4 linked regions of the Homo sapiens genome follow. Changing the gene in region 2 together with the main gene of any one other region gives a genetic interaction. Each region holds a gene or a part of one and is shown on either strand. Other genes may lie near its edges. The genes, in order: MTOR, KDM5C, MAP3K1 and KDM6A.

The links.
Region 1: changes in KDM5C (region 2) and MTOR together harm fitness more than expected from each alone (negative genetic interaction), as found in Homo sapiens cells (one large-scale study listed by BioGRID).
Region 3: changes in KDM5C (region 2) and MAP3K1 together harm fitness more than expected from each alone (negative genetic interaction), as found in Homo sapiens cells (one large-scale study listed by BioGRID).
Region 4: changes in KDM5C (region 2) and KDM6A together harm fitness more than expected from each alone (negative genetic interaction), as found in Homo sapiens cells (one large-scale study listed by BioGRID).

Annotation. Positions count from the first base shown.
Region 1 is NC_000001.11:11,255,976-11,259,590, reverse strand, and holds part of MTOR (serine/threonine-protein kinase mTOR), read left to right. Parts: intron 1-140; exon of another isoform or gene 141-167; 5' UTR 168-181; coding exon 182-343; intron 344-997; coding exon 998-1,106; intron 1,107-2,425; coding exon 2,426-2,658; intron 2,659-3,398; coding exon 3,399-3,599; intron 3,600-3,615. UniProt on the Homo sapiens protein: Serine/threonine protein kinase which is a central regulator of cellular metabolism, growth and survival in response to hormones, growth factors, nutrients, energy and stress signals.
Region 2 is NC_000023.11:53,208,110-53,211,724, forward strand, and holds part of KDM5C (lysine-specific demethylase 5C), read right to left. Parts: intron 3,547-3,615; coding exon 3,388-3,546; intron 2,749-3,387; coding exon 2,567-2,748; intron 2,468-2,566; coding exon 2,305-2,467; intron 1-2,304. UniProt on the Homo sapiens protein: Histone demethylase that specifically demethylates 'Lys-4' of histone H3, thereby playing a central role in histone code. Does not demethylate histone H3 'Lys-9', H3 'Lys-27', H3 'Lys-36', H3 'Lys-79' or H4 'Lys-20'.
Region 3 is NC_000005.10:56,888,447-56,892,061, reverse strand, and holds part of MAP3K1 (mitogen-activated protein kinase kinase kinase 1), read right to left. Parts: intron 1-3,615. UniProt on the Homo sapiens protein: Component of a protein kinase signal transduction cascade. Activates the ERK and JNK kinase pathways by phosphorylation of MAP2K1 and MAP2K4. May phosphorylate the MAPK8/JNK1 kinase.
Region 4 is NC_000023.11:45,058,182-45,061,796, reverse strand, and holds part of KDM6A (lysine-specific demethylase 6A), read right to left. Parts: intron 2,792-3,615; coding exon 2,693-2,791; intron 2,551-2,692; coding exon 2,331-2,550; intron 1,776-2,330; coding exon 1,641-1,775; intron 1,189-1,640; coding exon 1,033-1,188; intron 474-1,032; coding exon 378-473; intron 1-377. UniProt on the Homo sapiens protein: Histone demethylase that specifically demethylates 'Lys-27' of histone H3, thereby playing a central role in histone code. Demethylates trimethylated and dimethylated but not monomethylated H3 'Lys-27'.

The sequences.
Region 1 (3,615 bases), on a different chromosome or scaffold from region 2:
AATGAATCTAGGCTTTCTAAATGTTCCTCAATCAGATCTCTCAACCTTTTTAGAATCCCCTGCCTGACAAGGGCTAGGGGGAGATCTGTGTTGGGTGACCAGGGCCATAAGTAAATTTATCATCATACTTTCTTATCCAGAATATTAAAGGAAACTTCTCTCTAAAGAACCTCAGGGCAAGATGCTTGGAACCGGACCTGCCGCCGCCACCACCGCTGCCACCACATCTAGCAATGTGAGCGTCCTGCAGCAGTTTGCCAGTGGCCTAAAGAGCCGGAATGAGGAAACCAGGGCCAAAGCCGCCAAGGAGCTCCAGCACTATGTCACCATGGAACTCCGAGAGGTGCTTCTGGGATCTGGGGCCAGTCATTGTGGGATGTGTGGGCTAAATGTACCATCACTGGTTTACATTTTTTTTTGTACAGCTAAGTGAGGATTTGGAAAACAGAGATTATTTTATAAAGGCACCCAACCTGTCACATCCATAAAACATGCAGGTTCTTTTGCAGCAGTTGCACATTTTTGTAGCATTTTTCTTGTTTGTGGTCACATTTTAGGGGCCAGAATAGACTTAGCTGTTTCTTTTAACTTTTTATTTTTTCCTTACCACATACCACACCCTCAAATGCTTTCTGTCTGATAACAGTGATTGGGATGGGTTTGGAGAGTTGAGAGCTAGGGGCTTTCTAAATAGAGACCAGACTTGAGGTCAGAGACAGTATCTTGTTTCTCCTTTTATCCCTGGTACTAGAAAGAACCTAGGACAGGACATTTTCTGCCACAGAGTAGATACCTAATAAATATTTGTTAAATAATCAGATGATTGCAAGTTCAGGTACTCTACAGTGTAATCCTATAGAAATGGGCAGTAACTTGTCTTCTTTGGTTTGAACTATACCTCCTGCCTCTCAGGATCTAATCTTTAGATGCCAGCCCACTCCCACCACCACAGTTAGAGAATTATTAGAAATTGTTCTGATTATATCTTCTTTTGCAGATGAGTCAAGAGGAGTCTACTCGCTTCTATGACCAACTGAACCATCACATTTTTGAATTGGTTTCCAGCTCAGATGCCAATGAGAGGAAAGGTGGCATCTTGGCCATAGGTAAGGACAGAGTCTCTGGTCACAAAAACAACACACTCACCTTTGTGCCCACTGCACCCTGTGTCTGCCACTTACTGGATACTAGTTCATATTTGCTTAATGAAATTTAAGAAGCCCGTGGCTTTTAATTCTAGCAGCAGCCCTGGGCCACAGGAAAAACGTATTTTTAGATGTGGAAGTGGAGTCTCGGAACCATCGAGTGACTTTTCAGACAGTTTACCAGAGCTGAGACTAGAAGCCAGCTTTCTTTCCACTCCTTCATATTGCCTTTTGTGGGCTCTGCTTCCTCAGTAGAGCAGGGTTTCGCATAGTGGGGCTCACGAATGGAAAAGTGGAATCGGTATAGTTAATAAAAGGCAGGTCTTTTTTTTTTTTTTGAGATGGAGTCTCACTCTTGCCGGGGCTGGAGTTCAGTGGTGCAATCTTGGCTTGCTGCAACCTCCGCCTCCTGGGTTCAAGCGATTCTCGTGCCTCAGCCTCCCGAGTAGCTGGGATTACAGGCACCTGCCACCATGCCCAGCTAATGTTTGTATTTTCAGTAGAGACAGGGTTTCACCATGTTGGCCAGGCTGGTCTCGAACTCCTGACCTCAAGTGATCTGCCCACCTCAGCCTCCCAGAGTGCTGGGATTACAGGTGTGAGCCACCACAACTGGCCAGGCAGGTCATTTTTAACTTCTAAGGACTGGTCATCAGTCCTGTGAATTATTATCCAGTCCCAGTTGTTTTCCCTTTTTGGGGGGTAGGGGAGAAAATTATACTAGCATGAGATTATTTTGCTTTATGTAAATATTTCTGGCACAAGTATTAAATATCTGGGTTAAAATGAAAATTGTATCTGTCCTTGCCATCTAGAAATGTACTCAAAGTAGAATGGAGGGTTCACTCGCCAGATTTTTTTTTTTTTTTTTTTTTTTTTCTCTGAGACAGAGTCTCACTCTGTCGCCCAGGCTGGAGTGCAATGGTGCAGTCTCGGCTTACTGCAACCTCTGCCTCCCAGGTCCAAGCAATTCTCCTGCCTCAGCCTCCCAAGTAGCTGGGATTACAGGCGTGTGCCACCACGCCTGGCTAATTTTTTTGTTTTCTTTTTTTTTTTTTTTTTTTTGTATCTTAGTAGAGACGGGGTTTCACCATGTTGCCCAGGCTGGTCTCAAACTCCTGAGCTCAGGCAATCCGCCCGCCTCAGCCTCCCAAAGTGCTAGGATTACAGACTTGAGCCACCGTGCCTGGCCGGCACTCACCAGCTTTTAGTTGAAGTCTGCGTACTTTCCTGGCCAGCATACGCCCCATCATCACCTTTTGCCTTCCTCTCTTTTGCAGCTAGCCTCATAGGAGTGGAAGGTGGGAATGCCACCCGAATTGGCAGATTTGCCAACTATCTTCGGAACCTCCTCCCCTCCAATGACCCAGTTGTCATGGAAATGGCATCCAAGGCCATTGGCCGTCTTGCCATGGCAGGGGACACTTTTACCGCTGAGTACGTGGAATTTGAGGTGAAGCGAGCCCTGGAATGGCTGGGTGCTGACCGCAATGAGGGCCGGAGACATGCAGCTGTGAGTGTCTACAGGGAGGAGCACAGCCAGGCTTGGGGAACGATGGTGTCATGGGGGGGTCTTTTGCTTCCTTCTGAGGCTCATTCCTTAAAAAAGCTGGTTAGAAGAGCTAGGATTCCAGGCTGTGAGATGGGGTAGAGTCCGTCCTTAAGAGGGAATCTAGCATGGTGTGGTGGGGATCAGAAGCATCAGCTGCGTGCTTTCCAGTCTGCTGCCCTTCGGAGGAGGCAGTACTGTGAGGAGGGGGCACGGTACCAGGAAAAGGACACACACTTGGACCCTGGCTCAAGTCTTGGCTTTGCAACTTCCTACCTAACTCTGTAACCTGGGGCAGCTTCTGACCTTCAGTTTCTTCCTCTGTCAAATAAAAATAACAACAGGATTAAACATTAAACAGGATTATCCATTCAGTAAATATTTACTACATACCTACTGTATTCCAGGTAGAGTTCTAGGCTGTTAGTATAGTGGTAAAGAAAACATAAAACACATCTGCACTTCCAGAACTTATGTTCAAACATTACAAGCATTCTGTGTTTGTAAACAACCTAGGATAATGAGCACTGAGATGTTTAATCAATTTTGCTTTCCTTCCTCTGTCCTCAGAATTTCCTAGCTAGAAGAGTGAGCAAGCCTTCTCTGTTCCTGGTGTGTATGGCTCTAAGATGACAAGAGACTGTACTCCTGAGAGAACAAAACTCTGGTACCAATGAGAGTTCTCGGTTTGCTTTTTTCTCCAGGTCCTGGTTCTCCGTGAGCTGGCCATCAGCGTCCCTACCTTCTTCTTCCAGCAAGTGCAACCCTTCTTTGACAACATTTTTGTGGCCGTGTGGGACCCCAAACAGGCCATCCGTGAGGGAGCTGTAGCCGCCCTTCGTGCCTGTCTGATTCTCACAACCCAGCGTGAGCCGAAGGAGATGCAGAAGCCTCAGTGGTACAGGGTAAGGAGATGGCTCC
Region 2 (3,615 bases):
TAAACTGCAGTCTCCCAGCATGAGAACATAAAAATCACAGATACTTGAATTAAGGGGATACTGCCAAGTCCAAAGGGCCTGGAGATGCTGTGAACTACCTATAGGAAGGGCAGGGCAGACAGAGGGCTGGGTGGTAAAGTAGCAGCTGGCCAGAGAAGATGATGAGCCACGAGCAGGAGAAATGCTGTGGAGGTGTAAGCAAAAAGCACGTATTTTGGATTCTGTGATAAAGTTTTTTAAAAAGCGGTAAGGACTAAACAGCTCCATGACCTTCTGCATATGTATATATACATATATATACACATACATATATATATATATATATATATATATACACACACACATATATATATATATGCCTCTTAGCTACCCAAATCCTTCAGAGAATCCTTTTTTTTTTTTTTTTTTTTTTGAAATGGAGTCTCTCCACCTGTTGCCCAGGCTGGAATGCAATGGCACGATCTCGGCTCACTGCAACCTCCGCCTCCTGGGTTCAAGTGATTCTCCCGCCTCAGCCTCCCCAGTAGCTGGGACTACAGGCACGTGCCACCACGCCCGGCTAATTCTGTATTTTTATTAGAGACGAGGTTTCACCATGTTGGCCAGGCTGGTCTCGAACTCCTGACCTCAGGTGATCCGGCCGCCTCAGCCTCCCAAAGTGCTGGGATTACAGGCATGAGCCACCACACCCGGCTCTTTTTTTTTTTTTTTTTTTTTTTTTTTTGAGACAGGGTCTCACTATGTTGCCCAGGCTGGAGTGCAGTGGTACAATCTCGGCTCACTGCAACCTCTGCCTCCCGGGTTCAAGCGATTCTCCTGCCTCCTGATCCTGAGTAGCTGGGATTACAGGCGTGCGCCACCATACCTGGCTAATTTTTGTATTTTTAGTAGAGACTGGGGTTTCACCGTGTCGGCCAAGCTGGTTTTGAACTCCTGACCTCAAGTGATCTGACTGCCTTGGCCTCCCAAAGTGCTGGGATTACAGGCGTGAGCCACCGTGCCTGGCCAAGAGAATCCTCTTTTACAGTTTTCCATGGCATTATAGACAAGGACTGATGCTGTGCTATGGGTCAGGAAGAGAGAAGTCTAAGGAAAGTCAGACCCCATGTCTACTTGTAAAGCAGCAGAACTCAAGCCCTTGATCATCATCCTTAAATGGGGTGAGGTAGAGAGAGAAAAGGATAACTCCCTGAGTGGAGGAAGATTGCCTGAACTGTTATAGGACACCTCCTTCTGTCCAATTCCCTAGATATCCCAAGTCCTTGGTTAAATATCACTAAATTTTATAATAAAAAAATATTACTCATGGGGCATATAGTATACCAAAACAAGGAGAAGGCAAAAAGAAATGCAGGTGAGAACCACTGACCTAGTCCAAAGCCCTACTGTACAGATATCTAGGAATATCTGAAGGAGACATTAATTCAGTATTTATTGACTATCTCATACATTAGAGTAAGTGGTAATGTGTCCAAGGCCAAAGAGCGTGGAAGGGTGTAGGGAAGAGTAGCAGCCCCGGATAATACTTAAAGCAGAGATAGAGGATCTACTAATTCCTGTTCTTACAGGACTAGTGATCAGGCTGTTTTAAGATCCACACCAGAAAACTGGCTGATGCTAATCAATGCTAGAAATTCCCAGGAATATAAAGTCTCTCACAGGTAAGCCATGTTGTATACCCAGCAAAATGTTTTAAAGGGTAAGAAAGAAGTACACAGAGGATAGACCAGAACTCTGGGTTCAACTTTTGACCTGTTAAATAAAAAGACCTATCCACTGCTCTGAGAAGGGTAAGAGTATACAAAGTATGGCAGAGGCTGCTAGTTGTACCTCGATATTCATTCTTGTCTTCTGTCATAACAACATGACCTCCAGTTTTAAGTGGTACTTGACCATCCAAAATAAGAATTACATTTCCCAGTTTTCCCTGCAGCTAGATGTGGTCATATGACCAAGTTTTTACTAACAGAAGGTGAATGGAAATGATGTGTGCCTTTAAAAGATTTGTCTAGCCCTGCACTTCCCCACTTCCCTCTTCCACTGGCTGGAATGTAGATGTGATAATAAGCCACCCCTTAGCTGTTACCGTCAAACACATGGCCCAGAGGGCATACCATCATACGGTGCATCTAATCACTATTATTTTGGGTCTCTACTAGACTAGTCAAACCCGTAGCCCAATTAAGAACAGCAATGAAGAAAGGCCAGGGGCAGAATACAGATGACAACCACCGCCACCACCACCATCACAAAGGACATCACTAAATCACTCCTGCCGCTTGTCCCTGTTGCCTGGGTACTCACTGGCACACCATGGGACATGAGGGTGTTGGGATTCATGAGGGTGACAAGTTGGTGCAGGAGGTCAGGCTGGCTATCAAATAGTTCAGGTGTCAGCTTCTTCATCACTTCTTCCAAATGTTCTGCTGCAAGTGAGGGCACCCCATACCAGGTCTTCGGCTCACCCCTGCACAAGTGGAAAAGGGACACACACAGTAAATCACACCTTGGTCATGCAGGGAGCCCACACTGACTTGATTCCCTGGCTCCCCAGGGTCCCACTCACCAGTGGAGGTAGTTAATGGAGTAACTCCAGTGATCCTCAATATGCCAGCAAAAGGCTGAGAAGACCATGCCCACGTAGAGCCAGGGCACCTTCATGCCAGAGATATCTGCATTGATGTGGCACAGTACAGACTGTTCCAACACCGGCATCACATTTAGGTTCCAACCACTGGTAGCATACTCCTGCCAGGTCAGGTATTTGTAAAAAGGGCATGAGGGTTATGCTAAGGAACTGAGATCTTAAGTCATTTTCTTTAGCCTAGGGAACCTTAATTTTGAGGTCAGAGACTTTTTTGAAACATCTTAAGAAACATATAGGTTTTCTCCCTACCTCTCCACCAAAAAGCATACACACAAAATTTCAATTGTATTCACTTCAATTTCTACGAAGTTTACCGATATATCCACCTACCAAAATACCTGCAAGTTAAAAAAATCCTGCTCTGGATCAAAATGTACCCTTTCTTGGAAGCACAACTAGGCCCTCATTTTCTCCTGTGCATACAAACCCCACTCCCTGAACACTACTTATGGATGAGCCAGGATCTCATATACCTTCTCATTTAATTTTTATAACAAATTTGCAAAGTAGATATTATCCCCATTTTAAAGATAAGGAAATGGGCTCACAGAGGCGAAAGAACCCATCTCATGTTTGTACATGCCAGGTACCAGACTGTTTTCTTTCATCTCATCTAAATCTCATGGCTACATAAGACAGGCATAATTATCCTCATCTTACAGAGATACTGAGTTTTTCAGATACTAAATGATTTGCCTAAGCTCACACAGCTGACACGTAACCATGAATCATCCACTCACCTCCTCTTCGGGGGTTAGGTGCCGTTTACTGTCACTGACAGGGAAACCGCTGCCAAATTCTTTGGAATGGATGTCAGCTCCATACTCAACAGTCACATCTTCCTCAATGCTATTTACCAGCCTCCAGAACTCCTTCTCCACAAGTTCTGTGGGCACCATCTGGGGGAAGACAGGTAGCAGATGACTATGGCCCATCACACCCTGGACCCACTGATCCAGGTGAGCTGA
Region 3 (3,615 bases), on a different chromosome or scaffold from region 2:
AATTGGAAAAAACTACTTAAGTTCATATGGAACCAAAAAAGAGCCCACATTGCCAAGTCAATCCTAAGCCAAAAGAACAAAGCTGGAGGCATCATGCTACCTGACTTCAAACTATACTACAAGGCTACAGTAACCAAAACAGCATGGTACTGGTGCCAAAACAGAGATATAGACCAATGGAACAGAATAGGGCCCTCAGAAATAATCCCACACATCTACAACCATCTGATCTTTGACAAACCTGACAAAAACAAGAAATGGGGAAATGATTCCCTATTTAAGAAATGGTTCTGGGAAAACTGGCTAGCCATATGTAGAAAGCTGAAACTGGATCCCTTCCTTACACCTTATAAAAAAATTCAAGATGGATTAAAGACTTAAATGTTAGACCTAAAACCATAAAAACCCTAGAAGAAAACCTAGGCAATACCATTCAGGACATAGGCATGGGCAAGGACTTCATGTCTAAAACACCAAAAGCAATGGCAACAAAAGCCAAAATTGACAAATGGGATCTAATTAAACTAAAGCGCTTCTGCAGAGCAAAAGAAACTACCATCAGAGTGAACAGGCAACCTACAGAATGGGAGAAAATTTTTGCAATCTACTCATCTGACAAAGGGCTAATATCAAGTCTGAATACTTTAAACTCACCTATCCACTCCTAATCACAAGAAAACTCTCTTTTCCCTACCCCAGTAATTTCATAAATGCTTTGGGTTAAAAAATGCAAAGTAATATAAAGAAAAATCCTCTAAGGTCTGTGATCCTGTATCATGATATACTCAGCTGATATATACACATCTTACACACCACAAAAAGGAAAAATACAAAACAAAAAAAGTCCCTCTTCCTTCTTTTCCCCAAATGTAACTTACTGATGATTTGTGTGTGTGTGTGTGGGGGGGGGGGGTGTGTGTGTGTCTGTGTGTGTTTTGTGGAGGAAAAAAGGCCAATATATTCACAGACTTAAGATTTTCTAAAATGTCTACAAAAGAGAAAACTTAATTTAGAGACAGGGTCTCGCTCTCACTGTCACCCAGGCTGAAGTGCAGTGATATGAACATGGCTCACTGCAGCTTTGACCTCCTGGGCTCAAGCGATCCTCCCACCTCAACCTCCTGAGTACCCTGGAGCACAGGTGCGTCTCACTATGCCCAGCTAATTTTTTTTTTTTTTTGGTAGAGATGGGGTCTCGCTATGCCCAGGCTGCTCTCCAACTCCTGGGTTCAAGTTTTGTTCTTGCCTCAGCCTCCCAAAGTGCTGGGATTACAGGCATGAGCCACTGTGCTTGGCCAGGATCACTTTATATACCTTGCTCTTTTCACTTATTAATGTATCTTGTAGCACTTTGTAAATCAACACCAACAGCTTCATACTCGTTTAATTTCTGTATAGTGTGGATAATTTAATTACTTTCTTGAGTAGAGTGAATAATCCTGAACTTGGCACTTGGTACTTCTAGAGGTAATCTTGAGTAAATTCCTAACAATGGGCATAGCTGAGTCAAAGAATAAGTGCATTAAAAATTCTGGCAGATATTGCCAAATCACTCTCTAAAAAAACGTGCTATGGCAATTTATACTACCATAAACAGGGTATGGAAGTGTTTGAGAAAGCTTTGGGGTGCTTCCAAAAACCTCAAAGTATTTACTCCAAATTAAGGAAACTGAAAATGTTACAGTACAATTCTCTTTAAACTCTACCTAGGAAGGAGAATGCAATGAAATCTGTTAAAATATGAACTGTGCCAATTTGAAAATTATTTACAATTGTTTCCAGGGTCTCATCAAAACTCTTAAAATAACATCAAACTTTCAAATTGATCCTAGCCATGAGTATTTATTGAGCAACTTCTGTATAAGACTCTGGGAAGAAGAAAATGAATCAGACATGAATGGACCTCAAGGAGAATTAGTTTGAAAGAGGCAGCAAGATAGGAACATAACTAGCAAACAAGAAACAAAGTGTCAGAAACAAGTATGTACTAAAATGCTATGAGAATCTGGAATGAGTAAAAAGGGGGTGCCCAAGCAGGAGAAGCACAAAATGGGGGCCTTAAAGAGAATAAGAATTTGAACCACGTAGAGAACGGACATGGGACGTCTGAAAGAATAGAGGAAATGAGGTGATAATACAAAACAGGTATTGTCAGAGAGGTGACTGAGGAGGTTATATAATAAGTGTGGGGAGCACTGGAGGAGGTTATGGCAGGTGGAGCTGACTGTGTGGGCTGAGTGCTTGACTAAGGCCTAGGTATAATTTTGTTTATCTTCATAGTAATCCCACGAAGTACATGCTTCATGGGGTTCTTGCACCAATTTTACATGTGAGAAAATGGAGGGTAGACACAAAAAATAATTTTCCTATGATTACATGGCCATTAAGGGGTAGAGCCAGGGTTTAAAACTAGGTCAGTGTGACTCCAAAGCCCATGATTTCAACCATCACATCTACTGAAAAGCTAAGAATATCAACCATTACTTATTCTATGGTGGAAAAGGAGAGAATGGATTTGTGAGTTATAAAAAAGTAGGAAAGGCAGACAGGACTGAACTGACTTGGGTGTGAATTTTTAAAATATACAAAATAGTAAATTAGGCCAGGAGTGGTGGCTCACGCCTGTAATCCCAGTACTTTGGGAGGCTGAGGTGGGCTTGAGGTCAGGAGTTCGAGACCAGCCTGGCCAATATGGTGAAACTCCATCTCTACTAAAAATACAAAAATTAGCTGGGCATGGTGGCGCGTGCCTGTAGTCTCAGCTACCTGGGAGGCTGAGGCAGGAGAACTGCCTGAACCTGGGAAGCGGAGGCTATAGTGAGCTGAGATCGTGCCACTGCACTCCAGCCTGGGCACTGCAGCGAGACTCTGTCTCAAAAACAAAAACAAAAAACAAACGAACAAAAGAAAATGGTAAATTAGATTTTAAGATTTTTGAATTATGTAAAATGCATGAATTTCACGTTTTTAAAGTGATGGATGGATATATATACACACATACATATACATATAAACACACTACATATTTCTTCTAGAAGCAGTGTTTTAGTATTTGCTAATTCAATATTTGTAGCAACTTAACAGAGCATAACTACCTCAAATAACAAGAAGTGACTATGTATGTCACTAACATTGACAACACCATTGACAATATCAACTCCTGGAAATACACACATACACAGATGCTCTTCAACTTACGCTGAGGTTATGTCGTGATAAACCCCTTTTAAGTTGATGATATTTTTTTAAGTTGAAAATGCAGTTAATACACCTAACCTGCCAAACATTATAGCTTAGTCTGGCCTACCTTGAATGTGCTTATAATACCTACATTAGCCTACTGTTCCGCAAAATCATCTGACAACACAGTCCACTATAGAGTATTGGTTGTTCACTCTCGTGATTGTGTGGCTGACTGGGAGCTGTGACTCGCTGCCACTGCCTAGCATCACCAGTGTATCATAGCACATATTGCTAGCTCAGACAAAAATCAAAATTCAAAGTATGGTTTTTACCAAATTTGTATTGCTTTTGCACCATCTTAAAGTAAAAAACTTGTATATCAAATCCTCTCTGAATAAATATACAGACTATTTATTTACCTTCATGCTAGAT
Region 4 (3,615 bases), 8.2 Mb from region 2:
CTTAGGGCTGGGTGCAGTGGCTCACACCTGTAATCTCAGCACTTTGGGAGGCTGAGGTAGGTGGATCACTTGAGGTCAGGAGTGCAAGACCAGTCTGGCCAACATGGCGAAACCCAGTCTCTACCAAAAATATAAAAATTAGCGGGGTGTGATGGTGCGTGCCTGTAATCCCAGCTACTCTGGAGGCTGAGGCACAAGAATAACTTTAACACAGGACGCGGAGGTTGCAGTGAGCCAAGAGCGTGCCACTATACTCCAGCCTGGGTGACAGAGCAAGACTCTATCTCAAAAAAAAAAAAAAAAAAAAAAAAAATTAATACTTGTTTGCTACCTCTACTCCTTTTTAATAAACAATTTGTCAAAAACATCTTACATACCTGTAATTTCTGTGGTGTCAAACACCATGAATGAGCTTGTTGCTGTACTGGAGGATGTGACACAGCATGTCCACCACTCCAATTGTCAGAAGTATTCTGAGGAAAATCGATTTAAAAAAAAAATTAAAGAATATTTGGTTAAATCCACAGTTAATAATAATGGTTAGAGGAGGCCAAATGACTATGAATTGGAATATTTACATGTTAAAAAGATGTTATAACATTAAATTCTTTAAAAAATAATTTTACATGCATATTAAACTTAGAAATCATACATTTAAAAATTACTGACTATTTAATAAGCCACCCAAAAAGGCCCACCCTCAAACTATGGCCCAAACGGCTAGCCTAAACACCACACTGTCCACTAGATCCAACATTAAATTTATTTCAATGTCAGTAAAAAGTGATGATGAAAAGTGTGCTGGGATCTTAACGGCAGGGAGATGAATAAAATGATTTGATGAATGCAAATTTATCCCTACTTTCTATATTTAATATGATACTAAGGGTTTGGGATGGAAAAACTCAAACCTTTCACTCTTTGATGTCCACAAATTTAAAATAAAGGACAGGAAATGTTCAAACTGCACAATTTCAGGGCAGCTGAAACTTCTTTTTTGACTGGGATTTTCTATTTCTCTAAAACATATACCTTTGTTGGACTAGATGTTCTTTTCCTCTTGGCAGGACTGGACAGGTCATCTACTTGGCTAGAAGGAATCATGTGTAGTGGCAAGGATTGCTGTGAAATTGGTGTTTGACTGAGGCCTAATACAGGTTCAGTATTTGGATGATGAGGTTTACATGCCTAAGAATCACAGAAGGAAGACAAAAATAGGGTTCTATATATTCTTAATTCATTCCTTCAAATTATAAAACTTTACAAGCTGCATACTTTTCAAAGCTATGTGGACATCGCTGATTGCAATGATTGAAAATCAAAATTAAATGATTCATCAATGGAATAATGTGTACCTTCCTTTGAAAAACTTGCCTTAAAAATTAAACAAACCACTGTAGCATTATTTTAAGAAATCTCCTTCAAAATCATGAAAATGCACAAAGGTTCTAAGTTGGTACCCCAAAATCTCTTCCCATATTAGAGGGAATTTTATTTTGATCTAGATTCCCTTTGCAATTAAATCAAAAGGCTTTTCATTACTAAAAGCCTCCTGTGCTTAGTAAATTAAGCTTGACCACTAGAGAATTGAAAAGAACCCTTAAAGCTGGGCACCTGCAGAACATAACCCAACTTCTCACCTGCTGTGCTGTGTTCATGGCACCCTGCCTGGAGGTAAGCTCTGCGGGAATTGGTAGGCTCCACGCCTCCTCAATACTAGGAAGTAATTTAGTTTTATTCTGTAGACTACCTTGTGGAAGGTTACACAACTGAGCCTAGGAAAAATTATGTAAAAAGCAAATTTAACACAAGCCTACTTGAGTAAGAGCAAGTCCACTAAATCTTCCTAAATGCTATAGCTAATTGTTTTTAAAAGAAAATAGATTCTAAATTTGGGGCTTTAGAAGACACTAAGTATAAACAGGGTAACCGGAATATAAACCTTTGTGAGAATCAAAACAAAGCTGAGCTCTGTTTTCAGAGTTCTCATAGCTGTCTTCTCAAGAAACTCCAAGCAAGAGTGAAAGACTGTTTGTGTTTTCTATAAAATGCTATGACAACTTAAAAATGTAGACAGTACATAGAAAAAAATTATGTAAATTAATATGCATCAACAGAGTAAATGTGCAAAAGAGCATCTTTAAAAATACTGCATATCTTACTTAAAATGAAAAGTAAAATAATATTACAAGCTATGGTATGTTTACAAAATATGGAAACAGATTATAGACATCAAAACACAACTAGACAAACTTTCCAGCCACCCTCCTTCTGCCTGAGTGTTCTGGGGAAATATGTGGCTTTAAAAAACTGCCATTTAAAAATTTTACCTGTAAATACTTAATTCGTGCTGCAAGTGCAGAGGTATTACTACAACTTTTGCTTCTAGTTGCATTTAAGTAGCATTTAATGGCATCCTGAGGCTGGTTGCAGGATTCATAGAGAGTGCCTAGGTCCATCCAGGCTGCAGCATGGCCATGGTCCAATTGTACAGCACAAATATAGGCCTGTAAAGCATCCATGGGCTGATTTTGCTGCTGATATAGCACACTGGAAAGAGAAATTAAGAAAAAATAAGTCAACTCAGAAGAACTGCTTGGTTTTATAATGATTTAAACTATGAAGTACTATATGTGATGCAACCATCTTTGTATATCAATTAAATTACTACTATTTTTATACAAAGGCTTACCCTATTGAACACCATGTATCTGCACTTGCTTCTGATTTATCAATAGACTGCCTGTAAGATATAAAGGCATCCTGAACTTTCCCAATACTTGAATAGCACCTGAGAAGGGAAGGGAAAAAAAAAAAAAATCAAGAGAATTCCATTAATACTGAAACAAATTAATCGGCTGAAAGGATGGACTATATATCACAGCAAATTTTTTTAAAACCCTAATAAGTTAATATATTTATGTGTATGTATGTATATACTTGTTAACTATAATGAATATTATAATTTGCCCTCCAACAAACCATATTATAGTCTGTCTTATAGGTGCTAAAAAGCATGCTGCATTAATGAACTCTATTAAAATGATTAGGGGACATATCACTTCAATATTATAATACTGAGAGCTGCATGCACATGTGCACACACACACACACGGCACTCTTCCACTCTTCTTATACAGCTTGACCTCTAGTTTCCTATATGGTCAAAATACAGAGTTAAAAACAAAAACACTATATACGTTGGTAAGATTTGCTGTATCAGATTTCAATTTTCCTTTCCCAAGTAACAACACTGAGGGCAATAATTCTTTAATTCATAAAAAAAATGCACATGTAAGACATAGTTAATCTCAAACTAAGTATCAAAAATAGTATAAAGTAAAAAGTAAAAATAATATAAAGTATAATATTTTATGACTAGTAAAGTTAGCAAGGTAAGATTAACGATTCAAGGACTGTAATTTTCTTAATGTGAATATACACGATGGACATGATGGATACACAGATAACAGTTGAAATTATAAATACTGAAATTATCTTCTTATTCTTGGCACTAAAGGAAAAAGAAAAAAAACAAAAACCCAGTCCCTATTTTCATGAAGCTTACAATTTAGTTGAGGACTGAAGATACATTAAAAATGTCATGATGTCATA